Linked DNA regions of Homo sapiens: all the other regions are linked to region 1. The links come from fine-mapping of genetic effects on gene expression. A gene starts in region 1. Each other region holds a variant in brackets. All regions are shown on one strand. Distances are from middle to middle.

Region 1 (5,227 bases):
TTGATCATATGTCCTCCTTTGACTTACTCAGCTGGAGGTAAAGGGCCAAGGGGACCTCATGAGGAAGGGGTGATGTGTGCAGCTGCTCAACACCCTGAAAGGCAATTTGGGGACCAAGAGGGAGAGTTAATAAACTGACCTAACGCATTGAGTTTTTTCTGTGTTTTTTTATTTTTTCATATAAAACTTGAGCGTGGAGGCCAAAGGGATACACCTGAGTCCATTTGGCCAGTTATTTGGGGTTCTGGGGCAAAAGGAAGAGCAGCCAATGTAAGTTGGGTAGGGGTGGGGGCTCTGGGCAGGCTCACCATGGATTTCAGGGGGATTCTCAGGTGGGGAGAGCTGCCTCGTGGCCCCTTCTTAGTGGTGTACGTTCTGGAATTTGCACTTTGATTTTTCTACTTATGAATTGTGTATCCGTGGGCAACTTACTGAACTGTGTGCCTCAGTTTCATCACTTTGTAAAATGGGGATTAGAGTAGTGGAAACTGCCTCGAAGGTATTCCTGGGAGTTTTGAGCCCAGAATAAGCTAGTGTGTGAAGAGTTGAGAGCAGTACCTGGCATGGGGTGTGTGCATGGGTGACCTGGAGCCAACTCTGGAACCCCAGCTTTTTAATTCATTCTGCCTTGAATGAAGGGGCTGGCTGCACTTAGTACCTGCCTGTGGGGAGGTTACCAAGCAGCCCAGTGCTGAGGCCAGCAAGATACACTGAGGGACCCCAGAAGCACTGAGGTCAAGTCCCTGAGTCCCATGGGGCATCTCTGGGTTGGTCAGCACTGGGGTCACATTGCATGTTTGCTCAGCTTGCCCCTTCTCAGTGCCAGTAGAAGCCCATGGTGAGCCCAGATACAGGATCTGTTGACTCACGGGGAATTTGCTGCCCACAGAGGAGGGAGAAATGCACCTCCCCAAAGCCAACAATCAAAGGCCAGGCAAGCCCTGTGGGAGGAAAATAACTTGGGCTACAGATTTTCTTTTCTGGGCTTGGAGTCTTGCCATGGACAACACAGAAACAGACATGATTAGCATCATGGCTTCCGGAAACACTGTGAGTGCGCACTAGCAGGTGGTGGGCTGATGTCACTCTCAAATGGCTTTCTCGAGTCCGAGGGTCTGGCTCCCTGCCGGGCCCTGGCCCATTGCACATCAGCGCTAGGTATAAGCAGCTCAGAGAGTCACTTCAAGCTGCAGAAGACTTCTGGGGTGAGTCTTTGGAGGTTCTTGTGGAACCACAGGGGAGGTCCCCTGCTCATCCGCTACACTTCACACCTGGCCTGTGCACTCAAAGATGTCCACTGTCTTCCCCAGACTTGCTGGGAGAGAGAGCAGAACCTTGTCAGACTGGCCCACCCCAACTCCCCCCCATCCCCCTCACCTGTGCATTTCCCGTAGCATTTCCAGACGCCCAGGCTGTCCCGCACCTCCGTGACTTTGCTCAGATCCTTCCCTTGTCTAGAACTTGTTTGAAGAACTGAATGGAGATACTCAGGGCTCAGGGACACTGAGCCACAAAATAGGGGCCCATGGAAAGGTTGAAGGCATGGCTCCGCTGACACGGGAGCTCCAGAGCGAGAATGAATTCAGGGAGTTTAGGGCTGGAGTTGAAGAGGAACTAGAGCCTGGAGAGAGGGGAGGATAGAGAAAGGCTTTTTGAGAACCGCAGCAATGAGGGCTCTGCCTGAGGCTCTAGGTACTGACTCGTGGGCAGTGAGGAGAGGTAGATTTTTGTTGGGGATCCACTTGATGTATGTTTTCTTACAACTAAATGATAAAACTGAGGCTGAAACACAGGTGTTTTCTGCCTGGCCTTTTTCTAGAATGCACCTCTCTCTGAAGATTATAGAGAACTATGAAGAAAAGGAGATCGTGGGAAATATATGATTGAGTCAGTATGATTTGGAGGAAGCTCAAGTGCTTGCTGTGGTTGCAGAGAAGTGAGGGGACTTTACATTCCTGGCTGGACAGGTTGAACTCTGGGATTGGAGAGGTGGTGGGGGAGTGGAGAGGAGCAGAAGGAACAGACACAGGGAGAGACATTTCAAAGGATTGTCAACAGGGCATGATGATAACACAGGGAGAGCAAGTCCAGCCTGTCTCCTGGTGCTGCCCCGAGTTGATGACTGCAATTAAACTGCCAGACTTTACAGCCTGCTCTGCACTGTGTCCTCCTGGCATCTTGGGGACTTTTTCACGGTTGGGGCCACAGGGGAGGTTAGAAGCTGCTCGCTCTCTCCATTGCCAAGCACTGGCCGGTCAATGGAGTTGGGGAGAAGGAGGCTAATTCTCAACAGCCTGTTAGTGACAGCCATTCTCTCTCCAGCTTATCTAAAGAGGATTTTATTTCAGAAGAAGGCTGAGAGCTTGTTAGAAAGGCAAGTTCTTGGGCCCCACCCCACATATACTGAATCAGAGACCCTGGGAGTGGGACCCAGCAATCTGTCTTAATAGACCTTCTAGGAGATTCTGGCACTAAGGAAAGAGACCACAGGTCTTGTCTATCTCTGTAGTTGGCTGCGTCTGGGCCAGAGTAACTGCTTGTTGAAATGATCAGAGATCTCAAATGAGGTCATGCATGTTGGGGTGTGTGTGTGTGCATGTGTGTGTGTTGTGTATCTTTATGTGTGTATGTGTTTGGTCTAGGGTCCAGCACATAGTAGGTGTTCACTCTTGGGGGTGGGAATAATCACTCTAATGTCCGTGTTTGAGGACTGCATTGCTGGTGACCGCTGAGCCTGCAGAGGAGGAAGAGAGCAGGGCAGAAGATTCAGGAGGGGGTGCATGGCAACTTCTGATGTCACAGTGCCCCCCTTCACTCCTGACTTCTGGCTCATGGGTCACTTTGGGGCAGGGGCAAGAGGATGGTTAGCTGCAGCAAAGAGAGAGCCAAAGAGAAGTGGGATTGAGAGCACAGGGGACAGCTGGAGACAAAATATAAACGCCGGGCAGGGGAACAGCCAAGATAGTGCAGGAAGGATGGGGAATCACAGAAACTTCTCAGGTAACAGTCTGGGCCAGAACACTGGGTGTCCCCAGAGAGGGAAGTCGAGGGTGAAAGTGAAAAGGCTCACACTCAACTTCCAGGAGAAGGTCAGGTCCTTCATCAAAGAATAATCCTGCCATTAAAGGGTCCCCAGAGTCCCCAGCATTACTTCCCTTAAGTGGATCCCAATCCTGGTCACCCAATCCCCTCAGGACTTTGTAAAACGTACTGATGCCCAACCCTTGCCAACAAGCTCGTCCCATTCCTAGGATTCTGATTTACTTTGTCTGCAGAGGGCTTGAGCTCAGGTATGTCTATAATGACAGCCAGGTGATTCTATTGTACACTCAGGGCTGACCACTCTACTTAAGCAAAACACACACACACAAAATATACCCCCGTTCCCCCCCATCCCCTGGGGGTGATGGGTTGGGGATGAGGGTGATGATGTTCCCACAGATGCATTACCTCTCCACAGAGCTCAGGACCAAAGGAATGTTTAGCCAGAACTGGTAAATACCTTTAAAAAATTATTAAGCACCTATAGAAACCTATAGGGACAAAGGTGACTAAGAGGATTTTTACAAAACAATAATAATCAAGTCACTTATTTAAAAATAATTAATCATGCTTGTAATCCCACCACTTAAGGAGGCTGAGGCAGGAGGATTGTTTGAGGCCGAGAACTCAAGACCAGCCTAGGCAACATAGCAAGACCCCGTTTCTACAAAAATAAAAATAAAAATAAATTAGCTGGGCATTGGTGTGCACCTGTAGTCCCAGCTACTCTGGAGGCTGAGGCAGGAGGGCCCCTTGAGTCCAGGTGTGTGTCTGTATTGAGTGTGTGTCTGTGTGAGCCCAGGAGTTTGAGGCTGCAGTGAGCCATGATCGTGCCACTGCACTCCAGCCTGGGTGTCAGTGAGACTGTCTCTATAAAAGTAAAAATTAAAAAAAGTAATTTAGAACAAGGAATAAAAGACACCAGTGAATGAAACAAAAAATTAGTAAGAAACCTTGCGATCCATGAATGCACCTTGGTGTAGATAGGGGTGGGGAGAAGAGAACAGAAGAGACTCGTTTCTGCAGATGAGGCAGCCCTTCCCTTCTCCCCATCTGGGTGGAAGCTGGCCCAGCGCCCAGGCTCCCACCCCAGGCAGTGTTTCTGGAGGCCTGAGCCCGAAGCCCACTGTTTGTGCTGGAAGCTCTTGCTTTACACTTGTTTGAGCTACATTGAGTCAGTATGAGAGAGGCAGATAGGTGACGCAGGTTAAGAACATGGGCAGCCGAGTCCCTGGGTTCAAATCCAGACTCTGTCACTTGTCAGTTCACCCACTGGCCTGGGTCAGGGAGCTGACCTGGGTCCCAGGTCGCAGGCTTCCTCCAGGCTTCCTGGTAGGCTCTGCCCTCCCTCCCCCTCCCTTTCCCTCCCTCTCCCTCCCTTTCTCTCCCTCCTTCAGGGATGTCTTCTAAGTGCTTACCACTTGTGCAGGGCACAAAGAGGGTTTCCCCACCAGCTGTAGAATGCTCAGGCCCTGTAACAACTGGATCTGCCCCCAGGTGCAGCAACTCTAGGATCCTCTGTTGCCCTCCTGCTGCTACCACCCTCAGGGGTCTGGAGTCCTCACGATGCGCGCTGCATGTCCTCCCCACGGTGGATGGCCAGGCTCCCTCCCCCTCTTCCCTGACCACAGCAAGAGCCCCTTGGCTGCCATATTGGAAGGCGTTAGCATGCGTGTCTGTGCATGTGTAGGCATATGTGTCTCCGTGTTTGTGATATGACTGTGTGTTTGTGTGTTTTGTGTGTTGTGTGTATCTTTGTGCGTGTGTGTCTGTGTTGTATGAATGTCTTGGTGTGTATCTCTGTGCTGGTGTATGTGTGTCTGTGTGTTGGTGTGTGTGTTTGTACCTAAGTGTCTTTGTTGTGTGTGTTTGTGTTGGTGTGTCTGGTATTGGTGTGGGTCTGTGTTGTGTGTGTCTGTGTTTGTATGTCTGGTGTTGATGTGTATCTCCGTTATGTGTGTCTGTGTGTTGGTGTGTCTGGTACTGGTGTATGTCTGTGTTGGTGTGTGTTGTGTGTGTGTGTTGGTGTGTGTGTTATGTGTGTCTGTGTTGGTGTGTCTGGTGTTGGTATGTGTCTGTGTTGTGCATGTCTGTGTTGTGTGTGTCTGTGTGTTGGTGTGTCTGGTGTTGGTGTGTGTTTGTGTTGGTGTGTGTGTTGTGTGTGTTGGTGTGTGTCTGTTGTGTG
Region 2 (5,227 bases), 110 kb before region 1:
GGGCACCTAACCTAGTTTATGCTGGGTGGTGGACAGGGGGTGTTTCTAGGAAGAAGTGATGTGTAAACTGAGACCCGATGGATGGGTGGGAGATGGGCGGAAAGGGTGGAGAAGAGAGTTGCAGGCAGTGGGAACAGCGTGTGAGAAGGCCAAAGAGGAGAAGAATGGCAAGTTTATGTTCCACATATCTGGAGAGTAGAATGAGGGTGGGAGGTGTCAAGAGAGCACAGAAATTAGGAAGGCCACATACAGAGACCTCTGGGCAAATGCAGACTCAGTGAAGTCTTCCAGATTTTAAAAAGTGGAAGAAAATGATCAGATCTGCTTTTTAGAAGGACTACTCTGCCTGCCATGTGGAAGTCAGCAAAGAGAGACAAGCATTTGTTTAATTCACCTCACCAAGAGAGGCTCAAGTTAGGCATTTTAAAGGAAGAAGAATCGTGGGCACACCACCACATAATTTTTATCAAATGCTTCGTTGAGAGAAACAGCCTTCAGCTAGCTTGTATCTTTAATCTATCTTCCAGATTTCCTAAAATGCATTGGTGGAGCACATTAGAAGCAGAGAGCGGGCCCTCCTCTCCCACTGAACGGCTCTTTGGTCTAATGACATGAGGGTGATCATGGTTTGCACTTTAAGTTCTATTATTCTTGGCTCCACTTTGTCTCTTCTTAGTCTTCTTTTTCTGGACTATTTTGTCACATTTTACATATATTTGCAAGTTACTTGAACTCTTGTTTGAAATAAGGCAGAGGAAAAAAGTTAAATAAAGGGGTAACTAGAGGATTTTCTTTAGAATATTTGTATACAATGAGACATCAGTAAAAAAAAAGTAAAGGACTCTCTTTGGAACTGTTAAGTAGAAAGAGGACAAGCAATAATAATGGTTTTGGAATAAAGAGAGAATATATCAATTAATATGTGGGTTATTAAGTTTGATTTGCCATGAAATCTTTAAATATCATGGTTATATTCAGGTTGTTGAAGTTTAGCTGTTTTAATCAAGAGATCTATCTTTTAGATAGAAAAAGGTTAGAAAAGAGTGTTCATTTTTCATCTCAGTTAAACACAACTATGATTTTCTGCCTTAGTGCTCATAAAATGTGGTCAGAGCTAAATCTCAGAGATCTCAAACACTATTATGTCAAAGACTGATTTCTTGTTATTTTAGGTCAATTAGTCTATATACTCTTTCTCTTAATCATACCATTCAGCCTTTGATTAAAAAAACAAAAACCATCGGCTCTTCCCATTCCTAGATGGATTTTTGAAAGCATCCCAAGCCTGGAGACGCACACAGGCACACACACATACACACCTGAGTTTTCTCCTTTCATAATTTATTCAATATTTAAATTTTTTGTGAAATATGTTTTTTTTATTAGTCCTTTTTCTCCTTTTTATCATTTAAATTCCTTAGCAGTTTGCTTCCAGTTCAAGTGTTACTCTGACATCTGGTTTCTAGAAGCAAGATGAGGAGAAGAAAGGCTAAGCTGGCCTTCTTGGGTGTCTCTGGGCTCAGTTACCTTAGGAAAGAGGGCCTCATTGGAATTTCTGGGTAGATCCTCCACACCATGATTCTAAGTGTGGCTCCTGGACCATCAGCATCACCTGGGAACTTGTTAGGAATCCACGTGGTCTGGAAGCTCTCTGAGATTTGATAACTACTATACCATTACCAATGTGATGCTGGTCCCCATCTGGCCAAGCTACATATGCTGAGCCAACATAAGCCGCTCCACTCCAGTGCTGACTGCGGCCGGCCTGGTTAGGTCATCCACTTTCAGTTGTCTTTCATTATATATCTCTTGGCATGTTCTAGTGGAAGAATAGAGGGCTGTGAACTAGCTCTGTTATCAATTAGCAGAGGAACTTTGGATATATCCTTAGACTTCTGACTTACCTGCACTATCTACTTTGTTTTAATTTAATCATACAGCTACAAGTGTTTTGATCATTAAAAGTACTTAAAGGGCAAGATGAAGCAAGTGTGGTAAAAGTCTTGATAGTTGTTGATTCTGGGCCATGAGTATGTTGAGGGTCCACTGTAGAGTGAGCTCTACTATTCCATCTGTTGGGATTTTTCATAAGAAATATGTTTTAAAAATACTTTAATACTTTTTATTATTAGTGCT[A/T]AATTCTGGTTTCCTCATGGAACCATAACTAAGCATGCTGAGTAGGATCAGGTGGTCTGCATTCTAGTTCTGACTCTGAAGTTAACTAGTTATTTAAAAGTGGGTAACTTATTTAACCTCTCTGGTCCTTGGTTTCCTCAACTGAAAGGGTGTATTATGGCTCTTTCAATGGCAAGACTGAAACTTTCAAGTCAAACTTGCTTAGGTAAAGGCTCAATAAAAAGACAATAGGGAAGGCGGGTTTCTACTTGTTTAGCCGTGTGATCTTGAGCAAATTATTTAATCTGTTGGCCTTAGATTCTTCATCTGTAAGATGGGAGGTATTATAGAGTTGTCTTAAGAATTAAATACAATGATGTAAATAAAGCACTTAAAAAGTGCTTGTTAAATGAGCACATAGTGTTGACTTGTTCATTCATTCATTCATTAAAATTTCTCATTGCCTAGATAGCCACTATGCTAAGTGTAGCTGTACAGCAGTGAACAAAACAGCAAGAGTTTAGTCTAGAAAGGAAGACAGACCTTAAACAAACACATGTAACTACCGTGAACTCTCCAATTGTAAAATCAGCTACAAGAAAGAACAGATGAAATAAGACAGAATAATTTAAATAGGAAGGACCTATTTAAATAGAGCTGGAGGGAGGGGCTGATAAACTTGCCATAAATTGTTTCCCCTGATTTATTTTGTCAGACTTATAAAGACATGAATATACCACTATTTTTATCTTCAATTTTAATTTTACTTACAATTTAATTTTATTATACCAAATTACAAAAAGTGGTATATTGAAAAGCTAGATTGATCACATACAAAACATGTTTTTTAAACGTTGGTGCTCTTGCACTGCTGCAACAGTAGCTGTAATGGCCTTTTATTAAGAACAGAGGAATTAATAATCTCTGTGAGTGATTCTTGCTGGATTGAATTTATATAAGAACAATCTGAAATAGAGTTGAACAAGGTGTGATAATATTGCAAAAAAAGTTCTAATTTTCAACAACACAGAATAAATGTGTGAATAAGAAAAACAGCACTATTTGATGGGGGTGGTCAGAAAAAGACTAATTTTCTTGAACAAAAAAATTCTTTTATATTCATTCACTCACGCATGCAAATCGGTTCATGGTTCATGCTGAGGGTTGAATGATGATTTATTTCAAAACTCATATACAAAACTGAATTACATTTTAAATTAAGATGTCTTTCTACTGAGCATCACTGCTTGAGATTTTTCTACCTCTGCCTTTCCTGCCCAAGGCTACTGTAGAAAAGAAACTGATGGATTGAGAGTGGGGAAAAATTGGTCCACACATTTCTATGAATTATTTTTTTCTCCTTTTTAAATATAACATTGTTTTGTTTACTAAACATCAGCCCCTACATAGCTCTACGAAAGTATAATTTTCTACAGAAATTAAGAACAAATAAGAGAGAAACAAGCTTTAATTTGGTGCCTATTTATTGCACTTAATAAATGTAATTTAAATTACCTGACTTTTAAATAACTTCCTGGAAAAATGTGGCCTTTCTGTTAAGTAATGTCTCAGAGAAGCCTATGAAATGTTAAGTCAAGAAAGCTTTATATTTTGAGCAGCTCTGCAGGTAATTAGTTTAGACAAAAATTAATTTCATACTTCTTGGTCATTCTTCCACAATAAATGACTTTGAAATTACAAAATAAAATATCCTTTCTTCAAAAACAAAAGAAAATGCAAAACCTTAATCAAATCAAGACAATTTAACTTTAATTTCCCGTGTAAATCCCACATTGGAGCTTGGAAATGAGTTTCTGGAGAAAGCCTCTACAGAAAACTGTTTTGAAAATGTCTCCCCAGAATCTTATTTAGGAGTTTTCTATTTCTGAACATGTCTCAAGTTATAGATATTGTAGAGTGGCAGATGACTGATGTAAATTCAGAACTTAAGGAAATTGTGAAGAAAATGGGAAAACAAAACCTATTTTAAAAGAAAATTAAATTTTAAAACATGTTTAAAAGAAATGCAAAGAATGTAAGAAGAAAATATATTTGGCATAATTACATTCAGAACGTGGAGATTGTGGTTTCACACACACAGACACCTTTTTATTTATTTATTTATTTATTTATTTTAAGAAATGGGGTCCCATCTCTAAAAAATGCTCAAACTCTTGGTGTCAAGTGATTCTCCCACCTCAGCCTCCTGAGTAGCTGCGATTATAGGCATGCATCATGATGTTCGGTGCAGAGACTGTGGTATTATATTAATAATTTTTTTCAAGGAAGAAAACAAACCAGATCTACACTGAATGAGTTTTGAAAGCTGACTGAAAGAATCCTGTTAATCTAGAAGGAAGAGAAGAAAGATTGCCTATAAAAGAAAAAAGAAAAAAATACCAAAATGAATCTCCCTCATTGCTGACCACTGAGATTCAGCCTTCTTATTCAGAGGGGAGTACGTGGTGACCCCTGAATTATGCTACACCAATTCATCTTAAATTAAGGGTAATTTGTACAAAGACTTAGGAATTTTTAAGGAGGAGTGATTCCTATTGTCCCAGCTACGAAAATCAGAGTTTCCAGCATTGTAGTCCAATCTCTTAGTCTGTTTTTCTAATTTCTTGAGGGCAGGGACCAACTACCGAATCCCTCCATTACTCCTGGATCCCATAACACCCAATGCCTGCCACGTGACAGACACATACCTTTCCTTTCTCCTGATTGAGCCAGATAGTTGAATTCTCTGATCTGCCTCCTTATTTTTAATTTATAGGACTCTACTTAAAAAATAGCTTTGTTCACCTGCACCAAATAGGGTCAATGAATTTTAAAGAGTCTTTGAAAAGCTTAAATAAAACACAATTTATAAAGAATGAAGCTGGGAAATAAAACTATCCATCTCTGCTGCTTTGGAGACTGGCAGCTGCGTGCACGTGCAGCTACCCGGAGGTATAGTGCTGACCTCTTACTCCATCTCCTTACCTGCCCCTTGGGACCAGGACCTTTGGCCAGGGACCATGTTTACAAATGCAGACATCTACAAGGACCAGCCTGGCACAGCAGGCCAAACAAAAAATGCTTCTTCAGGATTTGGTCTATTGGCCATTAT
Region 3 (5,227 bases), 34 kb before region 1:
AACTCTTAATAAACCCATCCAAAGCGCAGCTCTTCTCTTCCAGCAACTCCTTATTTTTATGTTCATATCCAAGTAAATCTTAGCCTTGTCCAGAAGCAAAAGCCCCATGACCACGACTTCAATTCTGCCTCTCTTTTCTGGCCACTGCCTCTGTGTCACCAAACCCCAGGGACAAATTGGCAAAGACAAAGGTGGCTCTGAGAGGAAAAGGGAGGGAGAAAGGGTGTGAAACCCCACACATCATAGTCTTGTTCCTGTTGAAAATGCAGGAATATAAAGCCCAGTACCAGAGCTTCCCATTATTCAGGCCTAGGCTCCTGGTTCCTGGGCTGTCTAGTGGGTGAGGGCCCAGGGCCTGGAGGTGTTTCAGGATCCTCAGGCCTGATTTGGTGGACAGGACCATGTTCAGGGGAAAATGTGGGGATAGGGCTGCATGCTTGCTCTCAGGAGACTGGGCTCTTTTTTCTGAGTGTCCCTGAGAAACCATCCTTAGGTATTGGTACTACTCACAGGGTTGTGCCTAGCTTCCTGGCTTTGGAACTTCATTCACTTCCTCCCACCCTTCCCAGCCCTTCCATTCCCCCTCCCAAAAGGCTGACACCCACTCCTCCTAGAACCCTACCATAACTCACCATCCTACAAGAGCTTCCTTCTGTTTGGGATAGAACTTCGGTGGCCTGCATGCTAGCCATGAAGCCTTACGATGGCCTTTTCCTAACCATAACAACCACTTATTTCCACTTCATTTACTTTACATTTCCCTCTCCTCATAAGATTTCAGCAAACCATATACTTATAAGTCAACTTGCACAGAATCTCCTGCTAGCTTATTTTGGTGAACACAAAACTGAATGCAAAAATCCCCATCCTTCAAAGAATTTGACATTCTAATGTCACCAATTTTTCGACATGCTAATGCCAGCAATTTTTTTTGAAAGTTGAAATAGAACATAATAAGGCAACAAAACGAGACTAAGAGGGTTCTGCACCGTGTTCCAACAATCTTCAGTCCCCTTCACTGTTCATGTCTAAGCACTGAGGCGTTCTAAAGCAGGTCACCTTTTGCCTCAAGGACTTTTCTTGAAATATCATGGTCTTGCTCTGTCGCCCAGGCTGGAGTGCAGTGGCGTGGTCACAGCTCATTGCAGCTTCGACTTCCTGGGCTGAAGCGATCCTCCCATCTCGGCCTGTCAAGTAGCTGGAACCACAGGCGCGCCACTACACCTGGCTAATTTATTTTTATTTTATTTTTTGTAGAGACGGTCTCGCCACATTGCCCAGACTGGTCTGAAAGTCTTGGGCTCAAGAGATCCTCCCGCTTCCGCCTTCCAAAGCGCTGGGATAACAGGCGTGAGCCGCTGCCCGGGCCATCCCTCGAGGAAGTTTCATCAGGTAGACATTAATTCTTTCACGAGGATCACGGATCGAGCTCTTTACTGGAAACCTGCGCCCCGCCTTAGTTCTCCACCTCTTCGTGCGGCTCCAGGCAACTGCCAACAGATGGCGCCCGCCCGCCTATTTCTCTCCTTGCGGCTTTGGGCCTGGAGGGGAGGTGGGGAGAGTCCCAATAGCAGAGGAACTGGTGAGCCCGGGCCAAAATTTCATCTGGCATCCGGAATGCATTAAAAACAACCCACAAATCTGAAGCTCCTCGCAGGAGAGAGAGAGAGAGAGAGAGAGGAGAGAGAGGAGAGAGGAGAGAGGGAGGGAAGAGAGTGACGGAGAAGGAGAGAAAGAGACGGGAGAGAGGAGAGAGAAAGAGAGAGAGAGGAGAGAGAGAAAGAACGAACGAACAGGGAACTTGTAAAACTAAGGGGAAAAGGGCAGAAGAGAGGCAGCAGCGTGGTCCCTGCAAGCGTCCGCTTTCCTGGCCAAGCAGCCCCCAGCACGCCTGCTTTGTGGGGCAGGGCCATGCGGCCCCGAGGAAGGATGCGGTGAGCCAGAGGGTTCCAGACAAAGGAGGGGATCCCCAAGGCTCTGGGCCAGCCAGTCCCTGTTTTACTGGCACCACGGTCCCTCCTAGGCGAGGACGAAGAGGGAAGGGGTGGAGACCTCCACCTTCTCTGCGTGTGGCTGCGTCCCTTTACAGAATGACAGGCCCTTACTTCCGAGGGCGGGGACTAA[TG/G]TGTAAGGCTTAACAGATCCAATTCCAGAAATTATCTGTGTTTTTTTCAATCACCCTCTTGTGCCCCCCCACCCCCCATTAAATTTCATCTTTTATCTTTTTTTGGGCCTTCGTAATGAAAAGTGGTTTTAAAGGTTGACCAGTTTTACTACTTAGTGCCTAACAGGCTGAGTGATTATACCGTTGAAGGAGGTCACAGCGGGAAGGACATGGAGAGAGATGGGGGGTCTGAGGCCTGGGGAGTGAGGTCTGGTTCCCTCTCCTCCCCTTGGAGCCAGAGGGCACCTTCGTGACTAAGAAGGGAGAGGATCTGGCCTTGTGCAGCTCTGCCCACTGAGAGGTAACACCTGTTCTCCAGCTGGGTGGCAGCTCCCTGAATCAGGCCAGTTTGTACTTTTTCACCTAACTCACATGATTTCCACTTCAGTCGCACTACCGCTGGCTGCCCCATTGTGGACAGCTTCATTAACCTCCGTTGCTCCTAAAGGCAGTCTTTTGATGGAAATGAGTGGCGGAAAAGGCTGAGAGCAACCAGGCCAGGCTCAGCCCACTTACTTACTATAGTTAGCCTCTCTGTTATGCCTCACTTACCCCAAGGACTCTCTGAGGAGTGGCCATTAGTCCTACAGCTCCTGAGTGCATATTGTGGCCAGTCCCACAAATGTGAAGTTCTCTTCTTTCCTCCGTGAGTCGTTGGGTCAAATAGAACTCTTGTTAATAGCTCACCAAGTCAGTTAAAGATTGGGAAGGTGGGCATTGTGAATTTGGGATTAAATAATGTCCAGGTGGTTAGAATGGACTTAAAGAGAAATAGAGAGGAAAAGGATCTAGTGGTCATAGTGAATCCCAAGTTGAAATGAGTCAACAGGAAGGGACAGTGATGAACAGGAAGGGACAGTGGGAAAACCCTGACAGAAATGCTTTAGCTACATCCTGTACCTTCCCACTTTTATTAGAAGATGCTTGATTTTTGTTCTAAGAAGGGAAATATGTATTCTAGGTTCAACAAGTTATAAATTCCTTAAGGGCAGACATCTTTTGCATCTCTCACCAGGTTTAAAAATTAATAATTGTGGCCAGGCGCGGTGATTCCCACCTGTAATCCCAGCATTTTGGGGGGCCGAGGTGGGCAGATCATGAGGTCAGGATTCCAAGACCAGCCTGGCCAACATGGCGAAACCCCGTCTACTAAAAATACAAAAATTAGCCTGGTGTGGTGGCGCACGCGTGTAATCCCAGCTACTCAGGAGGCTGAGGCAGGAGAATTGCTTGAACCTGGGAGGCGGAGGTTGCAGTGAGCTGAGATCACGCCATTGCACTCCAGCTCTGGGCGACAGAGCAAGACTCTGTCTCAGGGAAAAAAAAAAAAAAGAGTTTACAAGACATTTTCACACATGATAAATTTTCAGCAAATTCTTAGTGAAAGAATGAATAAGTAAATTATAGAATTAAAGTGATCTCACAAGTTCAAAGAGGTCAAATAGGAAGTCTACCATAATAATAAGCATATATTGCATGGCCTGAATTGTCAACCTTCCATGGCTGAGATCACTCACTTCTCCTCTTTATTTGCTTTCCATGTAACCACCTCTCCTTGGCTTATGTAATTTTTCTCTCCCCCTGATGAGGCAGAGTGAAGTGTTAATAGCTGGGATTTGGAGTCAGGCAAGTCCTAGGTTCGAATCCCAGTTGCTTCAGTGATCTTGACCAAATTGCTTATGTTCTGTTCTTTGTGCAGCAGTTCTGTGTCTATACAATGGTGGAGGGAGTGGGCTCTCCTGGGACAGCTATAAGGGTTAAGTAGGATGTGGAGGTGATAGAGCCTTGCAAAGTGTTCCAGGGTGGGCTGGTCATATTTCATAATATGCGGCACAGCTTAACACTTTCTGCCCATTACTTCCAATACAAATTGGTTAAAACAGGTGGTAACATGGTGGGTTGATATGTGGGACAGTTTTTAAAAAATCAGAATGGGCTGGGTGTGGTGGCTCACACCTGTAATCCCAGCACTTTGGGAGGCCTAGAGGCAGATCACGAGGTCAGGAGTTCAAGACCAGCCTCCTAACCAATATGGTGAAACCCTGTCTCTACTAAAAATACAAAAATTAGCTGACTGTGGTGGCGTACACCTGTAGTCCCAGCTACTTGGGAGGCTGAAGCAGGAGAATCGCTTGAACCCAGGAGGTTGAAGTTGCAGTGAGCCAAGATCGTGCCACTGCACTCCAGCCTGGGCGACAGAGCGAGATTCCACTTCAAAAAAAAAAAAAAAAAAAAAATCAGAATAGAAGCAGAGAAGGCATGCAGCTCCTTCTTTCCTGGAGCTGGGGCAATAGCCCAGGCTGGATCCCTGAACAAAATGTGGGCTCCGATCCTCAGAGGTTTTTCTCAGAAGGAGAGTTAATAGCCACCAGAGCAGGGAAGGTCTGTGATAGGGTTCGGGTGGCCTCTGTGATGTTCACAAGCATCCTGGCATGTGGCAGAGACCGGCTTTTCATTTGTTAAAGGAGACTCCTGGGGCACCTGCATCTCTGAGGGCAAATTACAACCCCACATATCCTAGAGGAAGATTTGTCATCCAGCCACCTGGAAAAAACACTCAGCAGTGTTGAAGACACACAAAACTACCCAGAATTTCTTTGGGGGCTTGAGTCATCACATTTCTGAGCTACTTTTACGGTGGGGAAACTGAGGCACTGGGTGATTTGCTGGAGGTCAAAGTTATGGCAGGAGCAACACAAGAATGCATGATCTGACAGAGTCTGTTTTCTTGCCCATGGGCAGACTCTGATCACGTTAAAAGGGGAGCCAGAACCGAGGTTGTTCACCCACTGGCTTAGAATATGATGCGGTGACAGTGGGGACGGTACCCTGGAGACACCCACTGAGAGTTTTTCTACCTGGGTAAATTAGGTCCGTTTGGTGTGAAGAGGACAGGTGGACTCCTTAGAAGGCGGCCCAAGGGGCTAGGGCATCAGAAGGGCCAGAGTGAGCCTGGAGGACCCAGCACACCACAGGGGCTGTTGCAGTGCTGGTGACACTCGGAACCTGTTGCCAGGGCAGGCGAGTAGCTGAGCTTGTCCTGGGATGAAACAGGCATGAGCT

What was found.
Region 2: its variant is fine-mapped to the expression of CDRT4 in whole blood (TOPMed, PIP 0.99).
Region 3: its variant is fine-mapped to the expression of CDRT4 in whole blood (TOPMed, PIP above 0.99). The same link has a PIP of 0.9 or more in spleen and testis.

What each region holds. Positions count from the first base shown.
Region 1 is chr17:15,465,233-15,470,459 of GRCh38, reverse strand. It overlaps CDRT4 (CMT1A duplicated region transcript 4), which reads left to right and starts at 2,839. Exons shown (of 4, transcript NM_001204477.2): 1 at 2,839-3,000. All of the region lies in intron 4 of TVP23C-CDRT4 (TVP23C-CDRT4 readthrough), which reads left to right. CDRT3 (CMT1A duplicated region transcript 3) reads left to right here. Exons shown (of 1, transcript NR_146601.1): 1 at 1-149.
Region 2 is chr17:15,578,170-15,583,396 of GRCh38, reverse strand. It overlaps a transcript of FBXW10B not described here. Among named protein-coding and RNA genes, the nearest start is that of TVP23C-CDRT4, 17 kb to the right of the region's middle. The variant A/T (reference allele first, on the strand shown) is at 2,137.
Region 3 is chr17:15,499,263-15,504,489 of GRCh38, reverse strand. All of the region lies in intron 4 of TVP23C-CDRT4 (TVP23C-CDRT4 readthrough), which reads left to right. It also overlaps a transcript of TVP23C not described here. Among named protein-coding and RNA genes, the nearest start is that of CDRT3, 31 kb to the right of the region's middle. The variant TG/G (reference allele first, on the strand shown) is at 2,125.